4 separate regions of the Homo sapiens genome follow, and regions 1, 2 and 4 are each linked to region 3. The links come from fine-mapping of genetic effects on gene expression. A gene starts in region 3. Each other region holds a variant in brackets. All regions are shown on one strand. Distances are from middle to middle. Region 1 overlaps GOLGA6L9 (golgin A6 family like 9). Region 2 has its middle 37 kb from the start of RPS17. Region 3 holds the start of AP3B2 (adaptor related protein complex 3 subunit beta 2). Region 4 overlaps FSD2 (fibronectin type III and SPRY domain containing 2).

Region 1 (5,221 bases), 270 kb before region 3:
GCTCGCACTGTGCCCAGATTCCCACCCCCTCCCTCTCTCTGAAGATCTTAGTGAGCTGAGCCTCACTGATAGCATGGAGGCTGCACCGGGAGAGGACAGGGAGGGTTCTCCCCCATGACAACCCCACTGCACAGCAGATCCAGCAGCTGCTTCCTCTAATGCAGGACTCCCCAGGAGCACCCAGGCTTGAGTGGAGAAGCTGTTGGTACAGGAGAGGCGGCAGGAGGAGCAGGAGAGGCTGCATGCCATTCTTTTCGGGCTGCCGAGAACAGGGAGCTAAACATCACCATCATCTAAGAGCGGGTCAAGAAATTGAAAAAAAAAAACAAAACATTTAAGGGGTTAATATCCTACACAATTCATTTACTTCATTTGAATGTTAGAGCCACTTATGTTTGTGTTTCTAATTTATAGTTTAAATTTATTTGTGTTTCTAATTTATAGTTTAAATTTATTTGTTTCTAATTTATAGTTTAAATTTATTTGTGTTTCTAATTTATAGTTTAAATTTATTTTTGTTTCTAATTTATAATTTAAATTTATTTGTAAAAAGTTAAATGAGAGTGGGTCTTTCTCTCATGTTCACTCTGGCATCTTTTAGCATTTCTTTAATTTGATAATTATAGGACGTTAGCATGCATATCGAGTTTGCCCTTATGTGGTGGGAGTTCAAACACACAAAGACCCACTGTATGCACACAACTGTTCTTGCTGGTTTGGGATAGGCTGCCATGCTTTTTTAATGTTAGTACAGCCTGTATATTCATTACGGAATTCAGATAAAATTTCCTTATGTTCTGCTGTTATGTTTGATCGAATCCTAATCACAGTGAGCTCTTCATTAGCTCAATATGTGGTTTGCCCTCTGGAAACAGCCTTTCCCCCTTTTTCTGTGTATTGGGGATGGGAGTAATAACATTTTGGGGAGGTTTTTAAATCTCCCAGAAGAGGAAAGTGGCCTGCTTTGGCAGGTGTGTGCAGGATAGAATATGTTTCATTTGTTCCGGTGCCAAGAATGAGCGCTGTACTACGGTAGTTCCCTTAGGATTTGTATGTGCTCTAGGCTCATGAAGATACTGCCTCATGAGCTGTGGCAGTTGTACTCTTTTTTGATGACCTGAAAAGGGATTATTTCTGAGGAATGAAAGGCTCCCATCATGACTGTGGATGTGGAAAACCTTTTCTAGCTGAGAGCATTTATATCTACAATACATTTTAAAGTCAGAGTTCATGTTCCCTGTTTTAATCACATGACTACATGTCCCAGTACACAAAAGGGCACTGGTTGGCGTTCTCCTTAATGTATTTAGTAAAGATCAGAAGAAATCCTTTAAGAGTTTAAATGCCCCTGGAACAGGCATATACAGGCTCTAGTCAAGAATGAATTCGAGTGAAGGAAAGCTGTGTGACACCTGGCATTCCTCTGTGTTCATGGAGCTTATTTGAGGCTAGAAGATGGATTTTACCATCTAGACCTCTCTGGCTAATAGCTAGTCTTCAACCATCTGACATAGGAATTTACTTCTTTTCCTTGAATGGAGAACACTTTAAAAATAATAACAAACATTATTATAAACTAATATATGTGAGAGTACTTAGTTGAAACAAAAAGGAGTTTTAGTAGACAGTATTATACTACATTTGAAAATCAAGGAGCAGTTTATGCAACGTAAAACGTTTACAAACTGCAGCACAATCTACTGTTCGTGAATGTCAAAGTGTCATGAGGAAAGTGTCTATACAATCACAGAGTTATATTTCCTCACAAAGTTCTTTACAAAGAGTGAAATATGTTTTTATACCTCTCAGTTTCAGTTAGAGGCATATTTTGTGTAATATTTATGGCTTAAAATGGACTAAAGGTCCTGTTCTTGCCTTGTCTGAACTTGCCGCTTTTGCATTCTTTGAGTTCAGTTTAAAGACAGTTACTTTAAGCCCATTTTAAACCCTCAGGCTAGAAATCGTACCACTGTTAATTAGCCACATTATTTGGTCTAACAGTTTATCATTCTGAAACTGAGCTTACCTAATACATTGATAAATTATTTCAAAGGTATTTTTATAGTTCAAATCGCTTCACTTTTACCCTGACACGTATAAATGACTAGGAATGACCTTCAGATAGCATTTAGCAACTGTAACCAATCTGACAATAATGTGTTCATCAGGTACCTGTGGATTAAATCACATACTGGCATATTTAAGCTGAATGTCAGTCTGAAAAATAAATGTACTATATTAACTCAAATACCACTCTCTGTGTAGGTATTTTGTCATATGTTTAAGAAAAAGCTAAAGAGAATGGAAATCCTATGACAATAACTATGACAATAACTATGACAAGTCTTTCTTCAAAGTGCATGCAGTCTTTTGCAGTA[C/A]CTCATTCAGCCAAGTATTTGTTCTCTACCTCATTCAGTATAAGGCAGCCTTTAATTTGCTTAGAAGGCAACATTAGAAGGTTAGAGTTCAGCAGGAACATAGAATTTTAAAATGTGACTTCAACTGAATAAATTTGAATTTCTGTAGGGAGTAAAGAATCAAAACACCTATTTAAAGACTGCAAAATATGATAATTATTTTTAAAGTAATTGATTAAACCTGGTAGGTTTTCCCAAAATGAAAAACAATCAGTTCTAAAACCAAAGCTGATTTTTAGAAAATGTGAAAATGTAAATCAACCCTATCCATAATAGATTCTCTAAAACTTTATCTTACAGTCACTTTCAAATAACTATTCAAAAATGTAACTGCTATATTAACGTCTTAAAATAATTTAAAACATTTTAAAATATGAATACTGTAGTTTAAAACAAAGAATCTAGGGGAAGGAAAAGTAGACAAAGAAATGCCAATTCCAGTCCAAAGCTGTATTTGCCAAGTTTTCTTAGAATGACTTTTACCGATTTATGAATTCTTATACACAGAATGCATAATGGAAATACTGATTTTTGTCTAAAGTGGCATTATTGACTGCTGCTGTGATGCTACTATAATGTAATACATTATTAAATTGTTTCAAGGTGCTGTTTTGCCTAAAAATTTTGTGTGTCTTGAAAACTATAGTACTGGGTATTGAGACTCTGCAAATTCTCGGCATGCTTGGCATGAGGTAATCGGTTTTTATTCTTACAAAATTGTAACTATGTAAGTGTGTTTATTAAAAGAACACAAACTAAAAAAGTTAACAGGAATTAAAGTTGTGGGATGAAAAAGTTACAGGATAAAAAAATACTGTGGAAAAGTGGCAAAAAAAAGTTGTGGAAAAAAAGTAAAAAAAAAGTTTTATGAAAAGTTATTTTAAAAAGTTATGAAAAATTAGTTACAGGATTTAAAAAAAGTCATGGGATAAAAATAAAAATAAATAAAAGCAGGCCCCTGTCAGCATAAGCCTGGAGAAGTGGGTCTGGAGTCTTCACCCCCACCATGTCCCTACAGCCCCTCCCCAGTCAGCCCTTTACCATTAGGGTAGCAAGACAAGACCCTTGTCTAATGGAGGGAGACAAACAGACCCTTTACCACCTTGACCAAGGCTGAGTCCTTACATTTCTGGATGATGATGTTTGTTATTTAAGAGCCAGAGGTTGGTGGAGTTGGTTTGTTTGGAGGAGGTCTGATGGCCTTCTTACTCTCACCAAAGCAACTTTTCCCTCAGGGGGGCTCCCATCTTCTTACTCAGAGAGGCAGCTGAGGCGGGACAGTGGAGTTAACTGTAGACCAGGCCAGGGCACAGGCTGCTGGGGGTGGCCCCCCTTCCCCCGTGTACATACTGTAGCTGTGTAACATTCTGTATTGTACCTAGCGGAGGTTGCAGCTGGCATATGAGGAAGAGGTTCTTATAATTATTCGCGGCTGGGAAACTTATTTATTGCTAGCATAGGAGCGAGGAAGGAGGCGGGGATGGGGTCATGGCTCCCTGGTGATGGGACTCCTGTTTTTTTTTTTTTTTTTGCTTTTGATTTTGGAATAAATGGATTTAGCCATACTGCTCGGCCTGGTATGTTCCCATTTCCCTCACTGGGTCCTGCAGTTTGTCCCACTGAATGAGGAGCCCCAGAGTGTCTCAGCATGTCCAGCTGGGCTGTTGGGGACCTTCCAGGCCTGTTACCTGTATGCTGCCTGGTGACACCTGGTGGATTTCATGGGGACTGCCATGGCGCCTACGGAGTACACTCTGGCCCTGACAGCCAACTGGTTGAGAAGCCTGATCTAGCTGTGGCAGGGAAGACAGATACCAGTGCCCAAGGGCACTGACTTCCATCCACCCCAGGTGTCTTCCGTTCTGTCCCCCTGCCTCCCTCTCCTGTCTGCACCGGGTGGCCTGTCTGTCCCTCCAGAGTGCCGGCTGCCCCGCAGGTTCCCTCCAGGCTGAGTTCAGGGCCCTGTCCCCTAGTGGCCAGAGCCGGCTTCACAGGGTAAGAGCCAGCTAAGCTCCAGGGACTTTCCAGGAAAAGTGTCCCTTGAAAAGGGTGTGACCTTTTCACTGCTCCCAACAGCACCCTAAAAATGGCTTGGCCTTTTCCCTCCCCTGAGCTCCATAGAGAACACAGCCAGCAGAGGACACATTCTCTGTCATCCAGAAATGGGTTTCTCAGCCGAGGGACAGCAGGACTGGTAGAGACTGTCAGGCCACACAGCTGCCTGCACAGCACCGCCATGCTTGGCCAGAAGGGCGGGAGGGATGGCGGGGGCTGGCTGTCCACAGGCCGCGCATGTCCCGGAAGCTCACTGGAGGTGGTGCACTTTGGAGGGGCGATGTCAGGAGACAGCTTCCTCTTGCTGGGCTACAAGACTCCACAAACACAGCACGGGGACTGATTCCCAGTGCTAGAGGCGAGGCAGTTGGCCACGTATATATATGTATATATGTGTGTGTGTGTGTGTGTGTGAGAGAGAGAATTTATAGCTATTTATAGAACAGGGCAGGGGCATACCACAGAGGGGGCACAAGTTTCAGCAACGGTCAAACCTGGACGTGTCAGCTCACCACTACAACAGACTAAGTCACAGAAGAAGGGGGCTGGCTTTGGGGCTGGGGGAGCCACTGTCAAGTCACAGGACACCCACCCAGGCAGGCTTGGAAAGGGAGGTCTCTGAGAAGAGGAGGAATCTGTTTAGAGGTCGAAGTGGGGCCTGGGGCTCCCCGGATGGGATGGACTTGCCTGACCCAATCAGCTGGCAGTTGGAGAGAAAGCAGAGAGAAAACGGGTTAGAGAAAAGCCAG
Region 2 (5,221 bases), 210 kb before region 3:
GAATTGTTCTTAGATATGATGCCAAAAAAAAATCAACAACAGAACATTATCAAAACTGAAAATTTTGCTTGAAAGGATAGCATCAAGGAAGTGAAATGACAACCCACAGAATGAGAGATAATTTTTGCAAATCATGTATCTGATAAGGGACCTGTAGTCAGAATATGCAAAGAACCCTTACAATTCAATAAGACAACCCAATTTAAAAACAGGCAAAGGATGTGAATAGGCATTTCTCCAAAGATACGGAAAAACGGCCAATAAGCACATAAAAAGATGCTCAAAATCATTTGCCATTTGGGAAATGCAATCAAAACCACAATGAGGTATCACTTCACGCCCATTAGGGTGGCTATAGATCAGAAAGTCAGATAACATGTGTTGGCAAGCACGTGGAAACACTGAAGTCCTTACACACTGCTGGTAGGAATGTAAAATGGTGCAGCCACTGTGGAAAACAGTTTTCCAATTTCTCAAAATGTTAAACACAGTTATCATACACCCAAGCAATTCTACTCTTAGGTATATACCCAAGAGAAATGAAAACATATGTCTTCACCAGAACTTGCTGTTCACAGCAGCATTATGCATAATAGACCAAAAGTGGAAACAACTCAACTGCCCATCAACTGGTGAATGGATAAGTAAAATGTGATGTAACCAGTCATTGGACTGTCATTCATTAATAAAAAGAACAAGGTACTGATTCATGTTCTAACATGAGTGAATCTTGAAAACACTATGCTAAATTAAAGAAGCCAGTCACAAAAGGCCGTGTATTGCATGATTTTATATATACATGAACTTTTATATATATATAATTATATATATTATATATAATTTTATATATATAAATTTCTATATATAAATATATAAAATCATATATCATATATGATATATATTTTTTCATATACATCATATATATTTACAAAAATTATATATCATATATCATATGATATATGATATATATCATGATATATATGATATATGATATATATCATATGAGATATATGATATCATGAGATATATGATATCATATGATATATATGATATAGATATCATATGATATATATATAATATGATATATATGATAGATATATTATATATGATATATATGATAGATATCATATTATATATGATAGATATGATAGATATCATATTATATATGATAGATATGATAGATATCATATTATATATGATAGATATGATAGATATCATATTATATATGATAGATATGATAGATATCATATTATATATGATATCATATATATACCACATACATCATATATACATCATATATACATCATATATATCATACATATATATGAACTTTCCAGAATAGGTATATCAATAAAGACAGGAAGTATACAAGTGGTTGCCACAGCCTGAGAGGAGCAGGGAATGGTGAGTGACTGCTAATGGATATGGCACTTTTTTTGGGGGGTGATGAAAATGTTCTGGTCAGACAATGGCAATTACAAAACTGTATACACACGAAAAACCAAAGAATCACACACTTTAAAAGGGAGGATTTAGCTCGGCATGGTGGCATGCGCCTGTACTCCCAGTTACTCGGGAGGCTGAAGCAGGACTGCTTAGAGCCCAGGACTTCAAGGCTGCAGCGAGCTATGATCGCTCCACTGCACTCCAACAAGGATGACAGTGCGAGACCCGTTTTCTAAATAATAATAATAATAATAATAAATAACCCAAGGTACCCAGTTCACATGCAAAACCACTGGTAAACATAAATTATCTCCAAGTAATCTAGAAAGAAAATGAGCACATAAGACGTCTTCTAAAAACACACATATATTTCTTTACATGTTACATTTAACGTAAAAATCAGCTATGCAGAAGTTACATGAACATTTTATGTTGGAAAGGTAAATGACTATTATTAATACAGAATGGTTAAGTACATTTATGTTTTTATGTACAAACGCATAAAAGGAAAAGCATCCTTAAAATAAACACCATCAATGGCTCCTCGGTGGTCACAAAACAAAATCCTCACACCTTTGTCTTCCTTCACAATTGAGCTTTATCCACCTTTTCAGGCTTATCTCCCATTATTACCTGACACAAACTTGGGTGGGCCAGAGTTTCCACTGACCATCCCCCGACTATTCATCCAACACTATGTTCACTGCCTCCCATTCCTGACCATTTGCCTTTTGTCTTCAACTAATTCTGGGGACGTTTTGTCCAAATAAATGATCCATATTCTTGAAGGCTGGAATCAAGTCCTATTACAAATATATTTTCTCACCCTCTCCAGAGCATAGCAACCCAGCATCTACT[G/A]GCCTCTCACAGCTCTAACCATCCACAACCCTAAGCTGGCTTCTCATCAAACGGGTACTTTTCACCACCCAAATTCAATTAATTCACTCTTACAATAATGAAGAATAGTCGCCTACAGCCTACCTTTTCCAGCCTTGATTCAATCATTTATCAATTTTATCTTCAAAGTCCCTCACTTCAGGGAGATGATATATCAGCTTTCACCCAGAGTCCTAAAGAAAACAGCACTCTTGCCAATGACATAGTGCCACCTAGTGGCAACATAACGTAAATCACAGTGGCAGTAGGAGGATCTCCACACTACTTTTACAGGAATGCACTGCAGGTAAAAAATAAGAAGCTACAGTACTGTTTGGCAGGACAATTTGTTTCATACGTGCATACTATCGCCCTGACTAAATTAACTCTCAAGTCTTACAGGTATTATTTGTTTTCAGTTCCATGCACAGATTAGCCATTTAGTACTTACTAAATCAAACTCAATTTCTGAAGTGTCTTACACCAATATATTCATGCACATATGGTTAAAATTTTCCTTGAGGATCTATCATGTGAGAGTGTGGCTTATTATAACAAGTAAACAGAACAAATAAATACAAAATGAAAAGAAATCGTATGATTTACTCGCATATAAGGGAGCTTGTTGTGGATTAAGTTTCATGACCCAGGACACTGAAACAGAAATGGAATAAATGAGAATAAAATTAAAAGTTGTCATCAAAAATATAGAAGCCATCTAAAGACCTAGGTGTCAAGCATAGCTCTATGAGTACAATCCCGTGCCTGAGATTACCATATGCCCAGCTGTATGCTATACACTAAGAGATTTAGGAAGGAAGCGGGGTCAGGGATTGACCCCAGACTCCATCTTTTCAAGTGGGGAAGAAAGATCTTCCGATTGAAAAATAAAGGCAAAAAAGGCTTCACCGTCACAGAAGTTTCAACAACCAACAGGATATTTAAAACAGTTATCAAAGCAAAACCATTGTATGTTCACTTACATTTTTACATAGTCCCTCAAACTCACAAAATGCTGTTTACTCAGGGACTTCTTCCGGTCTTACTAGGGAGCCTGGAAAGTGAGGGGAGGATTGCAAGGGACCACTAGAACCCTCTTCCTCAATTCCCCTTCTCTGAGAAGGGAGGCTACAGCTTGCCTCTCTAACCACTAAAAGGCATGACCCTCCTCAAAGTTAATAGCCGGATTCCCTGATAGATATTTTCACTAAATGAATTCTCATAAAACTCTCACTAAGATTTAGAGAAGGCTTCCAGGGTTGAATTCCTGAACATTAAGAACAGCATGTTTTTTAAAAGTTTAACTTGGTGATTGGACCAGGACTTCATCTAGGCTATGAATGCTCAGAATGGTAGGTCCTTTACCAAACAGCTTGAGTTTGTGTATAAAGTGATCTCATCCTCTTAAGAGTCAGAGAAACAGAACCAAGCGACTTCACTATAATTTGATCTGAGGAAGTTTCTTACTCACAATAGGTAAATGAAGGCACATACTAACCAGCAATATAAACAACAATATCAAGTGTCGTTCACACATGCAAAAAACAGACAAAATCCCAAACTCTGTGTTCTAACAAATCGCAAAAACCTCACTAACAATAAATTGAAATGACCAAATGTTTGGACTGAAAAGCAATGCCTTGGTAGCCTAGCCATGCCTAACTCAAATAACAGAACCATCTCGATGTTAAAATCCTCACAGATCAAGCTGTGTATGTCTCGGGTCAAGACTTCGCCAAAAAGCAGTGAGCACACACTTAAGAGGGAAAAAATCTACCTCAGCCTCCTAAATGCAATCATCTCTACACGAGTTGCAGGCCCCAAGCTTCAACGTGTTCTGCTGGACAACGCAGTAGAAAGCTGACAAGCAGGTGGCCTTCCCACACTGACTGAACCACCTCCATGCCCATGTCCATTCATTTTCTTGCCCACCCCATGTGCTATAACAGACCTCCTGGCTCAGGGCACTCTTTCCTTCCTGACTGCCTTCACTTAATGACTTTGTACTTTTAGGTGCAAAAATTATCTGCAGAAATCCACACTGAAAACCAAGCTTGAGAAAGGCAGCAATAACCAACATTTTTACAAGAAGAACAAGGTCAATATCAAGCCCATCAGATTCAAATAGCAAGCATGGATGAAAATGAAAGATTGAAAGGCTTGAGTGCCTTCTTAATGTATTAAATATCCATTTAATTTACAATTAAGCTCACTGTGCTCACTGGCCTTTTAATCAGCTTTCCAGGTCCTGCTCAGACTTGCCTAGGACATGGGAATGAAAGAACCTATACATTTATGGACCAATCTACCTTAACTAACTTGTCAAGTGTTCCTGCATCAAGCAGAAGAAACATCAGTGAAACTGATACAGGAATTAACCCCTTGTTAATCCATAAAACTTAAAGGAGCGGGATCCAATCTTCTGGCTTCCCTGGGCCACGCTGGAAGAAGAATTGTCTTGCGCCACACATAAAATACACGAACACTAATAATAGCTGCTAAGCTTTAAAAAAATTGCAAAAAAGGAAAATCTCATAATTTTTTGTTTGTTGTGAGGTGGAGCCTCACTCTGTCACCCAGGCCGGAGTGCAGTGGCACCATCTTGGCTCACTGCAACCTCTGCCTCCTGGGTTCAAGCCATTCTCCTGCCTCAGCCTCCCGAGTAGCTGGGATGATAGGCGTGTGCCACCATGCCCAGCTAATTTTCGTATTTTTAGTAGAGACGGGGTTTCACCATGTTGGCCAGGCTGGTCTCAAACTCCTGACCTCAGGTGATCCACCCACCTCGGCCTCCCAAAGTGCTGGGATTACAGGTGTGAGCCACCGTGCCCGGCCAATGTTTTAAGAACGTTTACGAATTTGTATTGGGCCACATTCAAAGCCTTCACAGGCTGCATGC
Region 3 (5,221 bases):
ATATAGTCCAATAACAGACCAGCCTTTACTGGTCAAATCACCCAAGCAGTTTCTCAGGCTCCTGGTATTCAGTGAAACCTTCATACCCCTTACCATCCTCAATCTTCAGAAAAGGTAGAACGGACTAATGGTCTTTTAAAAACACACCTCACCAAGCTCAGCCACCAACTTAAAAAGGACTGACAATACTTTTACCACTTGCCCTTCTCAGAATTTGGGCCTGTCCTCGGAATGCTGCAGGGTACAGCCCATTCAAGCTCCTGTATAGATGCTCCTTTTTATTAGGCCCCAGTCTCATTCCAGACACCAGACCAACTTGGACTGTGCCCCAGAAAACTTGTCATCCCTACTATCTTCTGACTAGTCATACTCCTATTCACCATACTCAACTACTCATACATGCCCTGCTCTTGTTTACACTGCCGGTTTACACTGTTTCTCCAAACCATTACAGCTGATATCTCCTGGTGCTATCCCCAAACTGCCAGTCTTAACTCCCTCTTAAAGTAAATAAATAATCTTTGCTGGCAGGGCTATGCTGAACCTCCTTGGGCACTCTCTAATTGGATGTCCTGGGTCCTCCCAATTCTTAGTCCTTTAATACCTGTTTTTCTCCTTCTCTTATTCCATTTAGTTTTTCAATTCATACAAAACCGTATCCAGGCCATCACCAATAATCCTATACAACAAATGTTTCTTCTAACAACCCCACAATATCATCCCTTACCACAGAATCTGCCTTCAGCTTAATCTCTCCCACTCTAGGTTCCCACGCCACCCCAATCCCGCTCGAAGCAGCCCTTCAAGGCTATGGAGAAGCAGTATCTCTCCATACCACCCCCCGCCAAAATGTTTGCTGCCCCAACACTTCAACACTATTTTATGTTATTTTTCTTATTAATAAAAGAAGACAGGAATGTCAGGCCTCTGAGCCCAAGCTAAGCCATGATATCCCCTGTGACCTGCACGTATACATCCAGATGGCCTGAAGTAACTGAAGAGTGAAAATGGCCTGTGCCTGCCTTAACTGATGACATTATCTTGTGAAATTCCTTCTCCTGGCTCATCCTGGCTCAAAAGCTCCCCCACTGAGCACCTTGTGTCCCCCCACCGCCAGAGAACAACCCCCTTTGACTGTAATTTTCCACTACCTACCCAAATCCTGTAAAACGGTCCCACCCCATTTCCCTTCGCTGACTCTTTTTTCGGACTCAGCTGGCCTGCACCCAAGTGATTAAAAAGCTTTATTGTTCAAAGCCTGTTTGGTGGTCTCTTCACATGGACGTGCGTGAAAATCCTCATCTTCTCCCCCTGTCCCTCTAAACCCCCACCCAATATCCAATTAATCATCAGGTCTGAGGCTTCCACCTCTTCCACAGCCTCAAATCTTCTGCCTCTCCCCTGGTCTAGGCCACAATCATGCCAGGCCTGTGAACTTCAAGACCCACCTCCCTTGTCTCTTGTTCAATCTGGCCCACCTCCAATCTCTTCTCCACAATGCAGCAGCCTGACGTCCTTCTAAAATATAAATCTGATTATGTCGCCTGCTTAGAATCCTTCAGGAGTCCTCCCCACCCTCTTTTCTGGTCAGTCCAGTGGCTCACACAGATTGTGGCCTGGCTCTCAACCTTCCTGAAAGCCCTTTCCTCTGCCTGGAACATACCTCACGCTCCTGTCTTCCTTCTCTCCGGCGCCAGAGACTAGGTCCTCTCCCTGCTCCCACTGCCCCCATTACACTCGACTGTCCCTGACTGCTTCTTCATCTGTGCTCCCCTCTAGAGCATCGTGAGGACAAGAAGGGTCTCATGTTCACAGTTGTATTCCGTGACTAGTTCAGGACTCGACACAGTTGGCTTTTCATAAATGCTTGTTGCAGAATTTACGAATAAACAAATGAAGAAACAAACGAACGAATCAAAGGTGGGGGAGGGTGTGAAGGTGGAGCTGAACTACAGGGGCAATGCCAGGAGCAGGGATGTGAGGGTCAGATGGAGATGGGGACCAGAGGGAGGGGAAATGAATTTGCAGCAGGGCCAAGCTGGGAGGCTGTGCAAGTACATCCAGGGCCCGCCTTCCTGAAGAGGCCCCAGGCTCAAGCTCAAGTTCGCTGACTCAGACCCCTCCCCCACATTTTTGGGAAGCCAACCCGCCTAGCACGAAAAAGGAAGGGAACCCCTAACGCAACGCCGCAAACCGGAGAAACACCTGGAACCGGAGGGTTTCTCCTCTCGAAACTGAGCTGGCCCATCCCCCGCCAGCCCCTATCTGCCCCCCTCCGCGTCCTAGGCCGGCCCCTGGAGCCGGGGTGCCAGCGCTGCCCGCGCTGGGCCGGGGCTCCAGGCCGCAGGAGGGGGCCGGGCGGGCTTCCGGTCGGCGCGGCCGGGGCGGGGCCGGCGCTGGGGCCGGGCGCTGTCCATGGTGCCCGCGCGCCTCGCCCGGTCCCCGGCCCCAACCCTCCCGCGAGCTTCCTGGCGGGCTCCCTCACCGCTTGTAGTCGGAGGAGAAGATGCCGCCGCTCGCGGGGTCGTGGCCGTACTCGGGCTCCCCGGGGCCAGCGGAGCCGCCCTTGTCTTCGCTGTAGGCGGGGGCGGCCGACATGGGGCGGCCAGGGAGACTTCGCCGAGGAGGAGGTTGCGGGGCCGGAGGCCGGCTGGAGCGGAGGAAGGGAAGGCGGGCCGGTCCGGTCCGGGCTGGCGAAGGCGGCGGCGCGGCAGGGGTTCAGCAGAGGCTGCAGTGTGCAGCGGCGGAGGCTGCGCGCGGATTTCTCAATCAGGGCCGCGCGCTGAGGTCTTAAAGGCACCGGCGCCAGCCGAGCGGAGGGCGTGTCCGCGAGGAGGCGACAGGGGCGGTGCGTCAGGGCCTGGCCCCGCCCATCCCTAGGAAATGCCCTCTTCAGGGCGTCTTCTGCCCTTTAAAGCGACTTGGCTCGTCTCCAGATCTAAAGGTGGGCGAGTCTGCTGGACGGACGCTGGGACCGTCTTGCAGGGGATGTGGAATAGCTGCCCCCACCCCCGACCACCTGGCCTCGGCGGGACGGGCCTCTGGGGCTCCGCTCTCCCCAGACGCACGCGCGGATGCTCACCCACGCCGTGGAGGGAAAGCGGGAACTGGAAAGAAGGCTGTGCCCGCAGGCTGGGGGTTCTAGAGCGGGAAGGGGTCACCGCACCCGAGGACCGGCCTCAGATACCTAAGGACGCTCCCTTTCCCGCCCCACCTTTCCTACAAAATCTGGCTTGGCAGCAGGAAGCCGAGGAGCTTCCTGGAGGTGGCGGAATTTAAGGAATTAAGGTCAGGGAGCTCCGAGGAGCCCTTGGGGGCTTAGAGAGATGGGAAACAGGATACAGAGGACGGTGAACATCTAATTAAGCTTTGGAAAGTAGTTTAATGAATCTTTCTGAAGCCTCCACGTCCACCCAGGAGGGCCAAGGTCATGCTTAATCCGGGGACACGTCCACGTCCATTGACACCTGAAAAGGAAGAGAAGGGTCTGGTGTGACCACCAGGGCTCCTGAGTCATGTGAGCCCTCCAGTTCAGCTCCCGAGCCCGAGTGACCCCTAGGCCCAAGGAAGGAAGGCTTGGATCCGATGGAAAGTAGTGAATTGGGCTGGGGGAAGAGGTAGGATCCAGTTGGGCATCAGTTGAGGTGGCTGGAGTCTTTTAGCTGGGCATGGGGACTGGAGGAGTTCCTAAGGCCTGAGTCTTGGTCTGTAACTAGCATCCCGAAGTCTCCATGGGCAGAATTGGCGGGCCTACCTGGGAAGGAGTGGGGCCCAGAAAGGTGGAGCTTGGCTCAGTAGAAAAGTTCTATTGGGGGTAATTCTACTGGGGTAAGGTTCTATTGGGGTAATGAGAAGGTTCTGTTGGGATAACCTAGACAAGTGGGTGGGTCCGCTTGGTTCCGGTGGCTTTGTGCCTGCCAGAGAAAAGTGGATCTTGAATTTGGAGAAAACTGGCCTGGGTGGGGAGTGGGAAGAGAAGGGCCTGGATTTTGCAGTTGCGCGTTTATAAGGCGCTTTGGCTAGTCTGCTCAGGAGGTGGGATGGGTCCTGTGCAGGTAGCTGGGCCACGCTCACCGACCTGCTGGAGCTCCCGTCTATTTGCCGGGGGTCCAGGCTGGGACCTGGGACGAGCAGACACAGTGCAAAGTGCACACAGTTGCTGCGCATGGAGTGATAGGATGGTGGGTCCGCGTCCGTCGCTTCGCTCACTCTGCGCAGCACGCGCCAGCAGGAGCGCAGCAGCGGGCGCTGCCCCTGTTTGGATACGATGCCTTTCCAGGAGCCCAGAAACTTCCCAGGAGCCCACAGCCTCCTGAGTTCTTGCCTGCGGGGATCGCCAGAGGGGTGCGGATCAGAGCCAGGCTTAGGTCCTATGCCCTGTGATCCCGCACCCCCATTTCCTGAGACCTCAGGGACCCTGAGTGCCCAAACCCCATTTTCAGAGAAACGTACCCCCAGCCTGGGACTTCAGTCTTTATCCCCGAGTAGCCAGCTCACTGGTGGGGCGTGGCTTGGCTGGGCAGCCTCTCCGCAGACTTGGGCCTGTGTTTCTGCTGGAGGCACTCACCCTCAAAGTGGATGATCTCTCCATGGCCACAGTATATGCCAACGTGGGCCCCGCACCAGCGTCAGGTGGGGGGAATCAGCCTGAACAGGAAGACGTCTCCTGGCTCAGGCTCCCTGCCCTCCAACTACACAGCCTCGAAGTGTTGACCCAGGAAAGCCTCAGAGAGGAAGAACTTAATGGTGCTGACTGCCCCAGTCAGGGCCTGCATGGAGAAAGGGACCTGCCTTCCTGGCGTTTACACAGGCCTGGGATAGGGAGGAGGTGGGTCCTTCCAATGACCATAGGTCGGATGGTCTGCCCAGGGCTCAGGGAGACCTGTCTTGGGCTTGGGCCCAAGGCAGAATGTCTTCACTGCCACACACTTGCCTCCTTGTGCTTAAGGGACTCCAGAGGTCCAGATATCACAGATACATCCTGCCTCGAGCCCCTACTGAGAACCCTTCAGTTCCAGCAAATGGTGCCTCCTCCCCATCCAACTGTCTTCTCATCTCAAAGTCCAGCCATTCCATTCTCTCCTCCTCCCCCCTGCGCTAGGATCCCCTTCCCCAACCAGCTCCCATCTTGCCACTGCTCCTGAAGGCAACACCAGGGACTGGGTGGGTGTCAGCTGGTACCTGAGTTGAGCAGAAGACCTGAAAAAATCGGGAAACCTGG
Region 4 (5,202 bases), 47 kb after region 3:
CGGAGTTTTCACTCTTGTTGCCCAGGCTGGAGTGCTATGGCGTGATCTTGGCTCACTACAATCTCCGCCTCCCTGGTTCAAGCAATTCTCCTGCCTCAGCCTCCTGAGTAGCTGGGATTACATGCGCCCACCACCATGCCCGGCTAATTTTTGTATTTTTAGTAGAGACGGGGTTTCATCATGTTGGCTAGGCTGGTCTCGAACTCCTGACCTCAGGTGATCTGCCTGTCTTGGCCTCCCAAAATGTTGGGATTACAGGTGTGAGCCACCATGCCCAGCAGGTTCATATTTTTAATGTTTCCTTCTACTCCCCAAGCACACACAAATTTGAAAGCTGCTTTGCTTTCTAATAAAGAGGCTTTTCCTTTGATTTTGGAAGATAATTTGATGTCTCTTTTCTCTTTGCAGGTATATGAGCTCCCTGAAAGCACAAAGCAGTTATTTCCATCTTCAGATCATTCAGAGATTATGAAGGCACAAACCCTGCCTTCAATTTGCTTATAGTCAAGTGGAGCAGACACAAGTCAATGATTGCAGTATAGCCACTGAAGTAATCTAAAAGAGGTGAGTGTGGCACTTAACCTCTCCTGGGAGGGGGAGGAATAAGGCAGTGTTTCCAAGAGGTGATTTTGGAGCTATACAGGCATTAGGTAGACAAGGAAGGGGAGGTCCATTCTGGGTGCCTAGGACTCTGTGGCTGATTTATAAATCGTAAATGGTACAAAAAACAGTGTTGAGTATCTTTTACCTTTCTCCAGAGTACTGTTCTTACTTTTGGATAGTGCTTCTTGTTTTTTCCTTCCCTCTCCCTGTCCCTGTCACCTTTAAATTAAATGAATGTTTGGAAGGAAGTAGGAGGGTAAGAATCTTTCTGGGTGGCAGAATAATAGATGGGTCTACCAAGAGCGATGTATATACCCAGTAAAGCCATCTCTAAAACTGTGTTTCTGCATTGTTACAGTGCATAGTTGGGAAATCTCAGTTTTGTTGGCTGTGTACTTTCCCAGTGAATGGATTATATTCCTTTCTGCGAGCCAGTCTGTTTGAATTTAAGGGCATCTCTTAAATTCCTTTCAAGCAAGAGACCTAACATTTATACTTAGGAATGAGAGTAGTAGAGACAGCAAGATTAGAATCCAAGTTCATATACCAAAACATTTTTATTTGCTATGTCTGAGTGACTACATGTTGTTTGAATCAACTGCAGGCTAATTTGTAACATTTCAAATAAATGATAGTTTAATTCCTCCAGGATTTGAGTAAGGTGAAAATAGAGCTAAAAACCATGATTCTGTCACAGTCTGGGAAAATGAAAAAGCAATCAATTAGTGAGTTGGGCTTAATTTTTTTTTTTTTTTTTTCTGGAACTGGTGATAGCAGAAAACAAGCAGTAAAGTAGTCAGACATGATATACTTGACAAGAACCACCACCTGTTCAGTAGCAACTCTAAAATAAGTACTAACTTAGGGGCAGTTGTTGTGCCCAGGTCATAGTCATACTCCTTCCAGGAGACTTCCTGATGACAGAAAAGATGCTGACCAGCTGGGGTCTTCTTTCCAAATAACTTTTCTCTTGCATTTAGATTAATTAACCATTGGTTACAGTGAAACAAGCATATGTACAGAGTTAATCTCCTATAGCTTGAAGTTATACATGATCTTTATTTGAGTATCTTGACTTGTTAAAGGACAGTGTTTTAAAAGCTGGATTTGGTTATGTTCTTCTGGAGACTAAGAAAATAGAGTCCTTGAAATCAAGCTGACTCTGCTTTTAGCCTCCTAAATGAAAAGGTAGATAGAACAGGTCTTGTTTGCAAAATAAATTCAAGACCTACTTATCTACCAACAGCAATTACACGCTTTCCATTGTCTTCCTATAGAAAATAGGAGTAGTACACTTATAGATGAGAAAACTGGAGAAAGACATAGTGAACATGTGAGAATCTTGCTCTACTAATTGATAGGAAGGTGACTAGAAATTGGCGAAGTTTTCTTGGTAAGTTGAGGAGAGGACTTTTCTTATAGTGCAGTCTGGTAGCTGAACCGCCTTGCATCAAGACCAATGTAGTCTTATTTACAGAATGCCACATCACAGTGAATTGTGCTGTGGACAGCTTCCAGTGTGTGAGTTGTGGAAGATGATGATTTTAACAGATTTTGGAGGATGAGAAGTATTAAGAAGAAGGCCCCACTGTCCATGCATTTGCTCTGCTTTTTACTTTTGACCAAGTATACACTTCAGAAATATCTTATTGGATGTATACAAAGTGATTGTGTGTCATTTGAACCAGCAGGAAGTAATTTATTAAACACACTTTTCTAAATAAAAGTCATTTAATTTTATCAGAAATCAGTGTCATTTTAGATTGCAAGTCTCAAACCAACTTTCCAATTCTGACTTGTAAGGGTGCCTTAAATCCTGAATACTGTACTCTGTATTACTAAACCCATGTTAGTTTACGCCAAGATTCTGTGGTGGTTTTACATATTCTTTTTCCCCTTTGTTAAGGTGGGGAGGCCACAGCTTATGTGAATGACTTTCTCAGGAGTTATAAAGTGATACAGGTAAAGCTAAGAAAAGAACAGATTTTGATAACTTTTGTTTTAACTGTCCAGTGTTAGGGATTGTGGCTACAGTGGTCTAATTTTTAAAAACTCTTTTTTTTGCTTTGTTTTTTAACAGACTTATCAGCAGGTTGCAGGTGAACATGGCCTTGAGGTAAATCTGTCCCTTGCTGAATACAGTTTCAGTAGATTGTTTATAGTAGTTTCAGGAATTGAGATTTTTTACAAAAATACAAAAGTTTTGCTTGGTTCTGTTCTAGATGTTTTCTTCTAAATAAATGAGAAAGATGTTTCAACAAAGGCTCTTTATGCTGAATAATTGTGATGCTTGAAGTTGCTAATCTGCTTTAAGTGGATTTTAAATGTCAGGCAATTCTAGACAGTTTTTTCTTGGTCAAATAAAAATTTAATTAAAACTTTATACGTGTTGAGTTTTTAATCCATTTATCCGTGTTCATACTAACGTGTAGTATTCCATAAAGCCTATTAGAACCCTGAATTCAAACTTGCCTTCTCTGTGATATCCTGTTTCTTACTTGGTAGTTTCTATTTCAGTAGCTGAGAACTTTTTTTTTTTTTTTTTTTGAGATGGAGTCTTGATCTGTGAGCCATCTCGGCTCACTGCAAGCTCCACCTCCCGGGTTCAC[G/A]CCATTCTCCTGCCTCAGCCTCCCGAGTAGCTGGGACTACAGGCGCCCGCCACCAGTCCCGGCTAATTTTTTTGTATTTTTAGTAGAGACGGGGTTTCACCGTATTAGCCAGGATGGTCTCGATCTCCTGACCTTGTGATCCATCCACCTTGGCCCCCCAAAGTGCTGGGATTACAGGCGTGAGCCACCGCGCCCGGCCGAGAACATTTTTAAATATACATGATATGTATCTTTTAATTGTTTATAACTGGAACTATTTCTGTGCTTACATCTGCTGTCCCTTGTTTCAGAGTAGACAGTCCAGCTTGGCAGGATAGGTGTGTGTGTGTATAACGAGTTATTAAATTGTCAGTGTGAATTGTTAATTCAGGAATCTGAGCTGCCATTTATACGAGTAGGCAGAGTTTAGTAGGAGATGAGAGTCTTTCAGTTTGTCAGACTTTGCAGGTGCTGGAAAACATCAGAGGTTTTTTGTTTGTTTGTTTGTTTGTTTTTGAGACAGAGTTGCGCTCTTGTTGCCAAGGCTGGAGTGCAGTGGCACAATCTCGGCTCACTGCAGCCTCTGCCCCCGGGTTCAAGCAATTCTCCTGCCTCAGCCTCCTGAGTAGCTGGGATTACAGGCGCCCACCACCATGCCCGGCTAATTTTTTGTATTTTTAGTAGAGACGGGGTTTCGCCAGAAAAAAGAAAAGTGGACTTTTTTTTTTTAAACACAAAACCTTAAATGATGAGATTAGGGCATATCTGGGTTTAGAGGCATCTGTGGGACATGATACTGAATTGTAATTGCTTCACAAATGGAATTATTCTGCAGCTTCACTCACAAGCTTTGAAAATGCTGTGTGTGCAGAGCTTAAGTGGCAACTGGAAACTTGAACAGGAGAACCAGGAATGTAGCTGATGGAGTTGGGCATTGAGCTCACAGAATGGCCTGGGGGCAGTGAGGCAGGATGCCTGAAAGCTGCCTAGCTAGAGATCAGTCTTCCTTCCCGTGCTCAGCTTTGCCCTTTGGTGGGCTGTTAATTTCTTTTAAAAAATTGTTGTGCATTTGCTAATATGCCACAGATGCCCTTCTGTTCTTTCACGCTGCCTCCATTCTAGGTTTTTTCCCATTTCTTGGCCATAGGTCCTTTGCTGTAGTTTTGAAAGAGCCCTGCCATCCTTCACATGGAGAGCAGTAAGAGGCCAAAGAGCAGTGGCTGAAGAAGATACTAATTTATTCAACAAATACTTGGTGACAGCTGTTATGTGTTAGCCCTTGGTGATCTAGCAATGAACAAAACAGGCACTGTCCCTCCCTTCATGGAATTAGGCATTATAGAGGTAATTTCAAAATTAGAGAGTGGTGCATACTGTGTAGGAGTGGAACAGGGAATACCCTGTATGCAGAGTACACAGTGGAAGGGACCTCACCACAGTGCTGCTCACTATTGGGAAAACGAGGGTAGAAGACATTGAGAAGGGCACACAGCTTCCCTGGTTCTCTACAGACAGCCTCTCGCCTTCTCAAGTGTATTCTTGGCTGACTCATGAAATGCATGGGTGTACTGGTGCTGCTGGAGCCATTAAGACTACCCTCGTCCTCTCCCAAGCTCTCTAGGTCTTGGAAACTCAAGATATTTTGCATATACACGAATATAGTTTGACAGCTTCAAAGACTTTTGAGTTCGTTTAGTCTGAGCCTTTATTTTACAGCTGGGCCTGGTAATGACTATCCTAGCAGCACACAGGTAGCAGCACACAGGACTAGAATCCAGGTTGGGTGAAATGAGCGCTAGCACACCAGTCAGATAATAGCATGAGCCATAAATTGTGCTGGGCACATGGTGCTTAAGTGCCAGGTTCAGCCAGCTAAGGCGTGAGCAGCTGCGAGAGGGGTAGGCATGGAAGACAGGAAACTGGACATCAGAATGTTCTAATAGAAAGTGACATGTTTTGGCATTGAAATGCCATTATGTACCTTTAGACACCCAGGCTTTTCCAAAGAAAA

What was found. PIP is the estimated chance that this variant, and not a neighbour inherited with it, causes the effect. A credible set is the group of variants that fine-mapping cannot tell apart.
Region 1: its variant is the best candidate, but not a certain one, in a credible set for the expression of AP3B2 in pancreas (GTEx, PIP 0.63).
Region 2: its variant is the best candidate, but not a certain one, in a credible set for the expression of AP3B2 in atrial appendage (GTEx, PIP 0.90).
Region 4: its variant is the best candidate, but not a certain one, in a credible set for the expression of AP3B2 in lung (TOPMed, PIP 0.64).

Annotation. Positions count from the first base shown.
Region 1 is chr15:82,436,115-82,441,335 of GRCh38, forward strand. It overlaps GOLGA6L9 (golgin A6 family like 9), which reads left to right. Exons shown (of 9, transcript NM_198181.4): 9 at 165-3,039. The coding sequence ends at 297. It also overlaps the pseudogene DNM1P36. Among named protein-coding and RNA genes, the nearest start is that of GOLGA6L9, 8.9 kb to the left of the region's middle. RefSeq lists enhancers at 3,890-4,881, 4,159-4,661. The variant C/A (reference allele first, on the strand shown) is at 2,379.
Region 2 is chr15:82,500,592-82,505,812 of GRCh38, forward strand. It overlaps the pseudogene GOLGA2P10. Among named protein-coding and RNA genes, the nearest start is that of RPS17, 37 kb to the right of the region's middle. The variant G/A (reference allele first, on the strand shown) is at 2,305.
Region 3 is chr15:82,707,109-82,712,329 of GRCh38, forward strand. AP3B2 (adaptor related protein complex 3 subunit beta 2) reads right to left here and starts at 2,767. Exons shown (of 27, transcript NM_001278512.2): 1 at 2,486-2,767. The coding sequence starts at 2,598. It also overlaps the pseudogene LOC338963. RefSeq lists silencers at 2,291-2,550, 2,771-2,820.
Region 4 is chr15:82,754,221-82,759,422 of GRCh38, forward strand. It overlaps FSD2 (fibronectin type III and SPRY domain containing 2), which reads right to left. Exons shown (of 13, transcript NM_001007122.4): 13 at 1,142-5,202. The coding sequence ends at 5,128. SNHG21 (small nucleolar RNA host gene 21) reads left to right here. Exons shown (of 3, transcript NR_110098.1): 2 at 409-564; 3 at 2,684-2,986. It also overlaps SCARNA15. Among named protein-coding and RNA genes, the nearest start is that of SNHG21, 6.3 kb to the left of the region's middle. The variant G/A (reference allele first, on the strand shown) is at 3,213.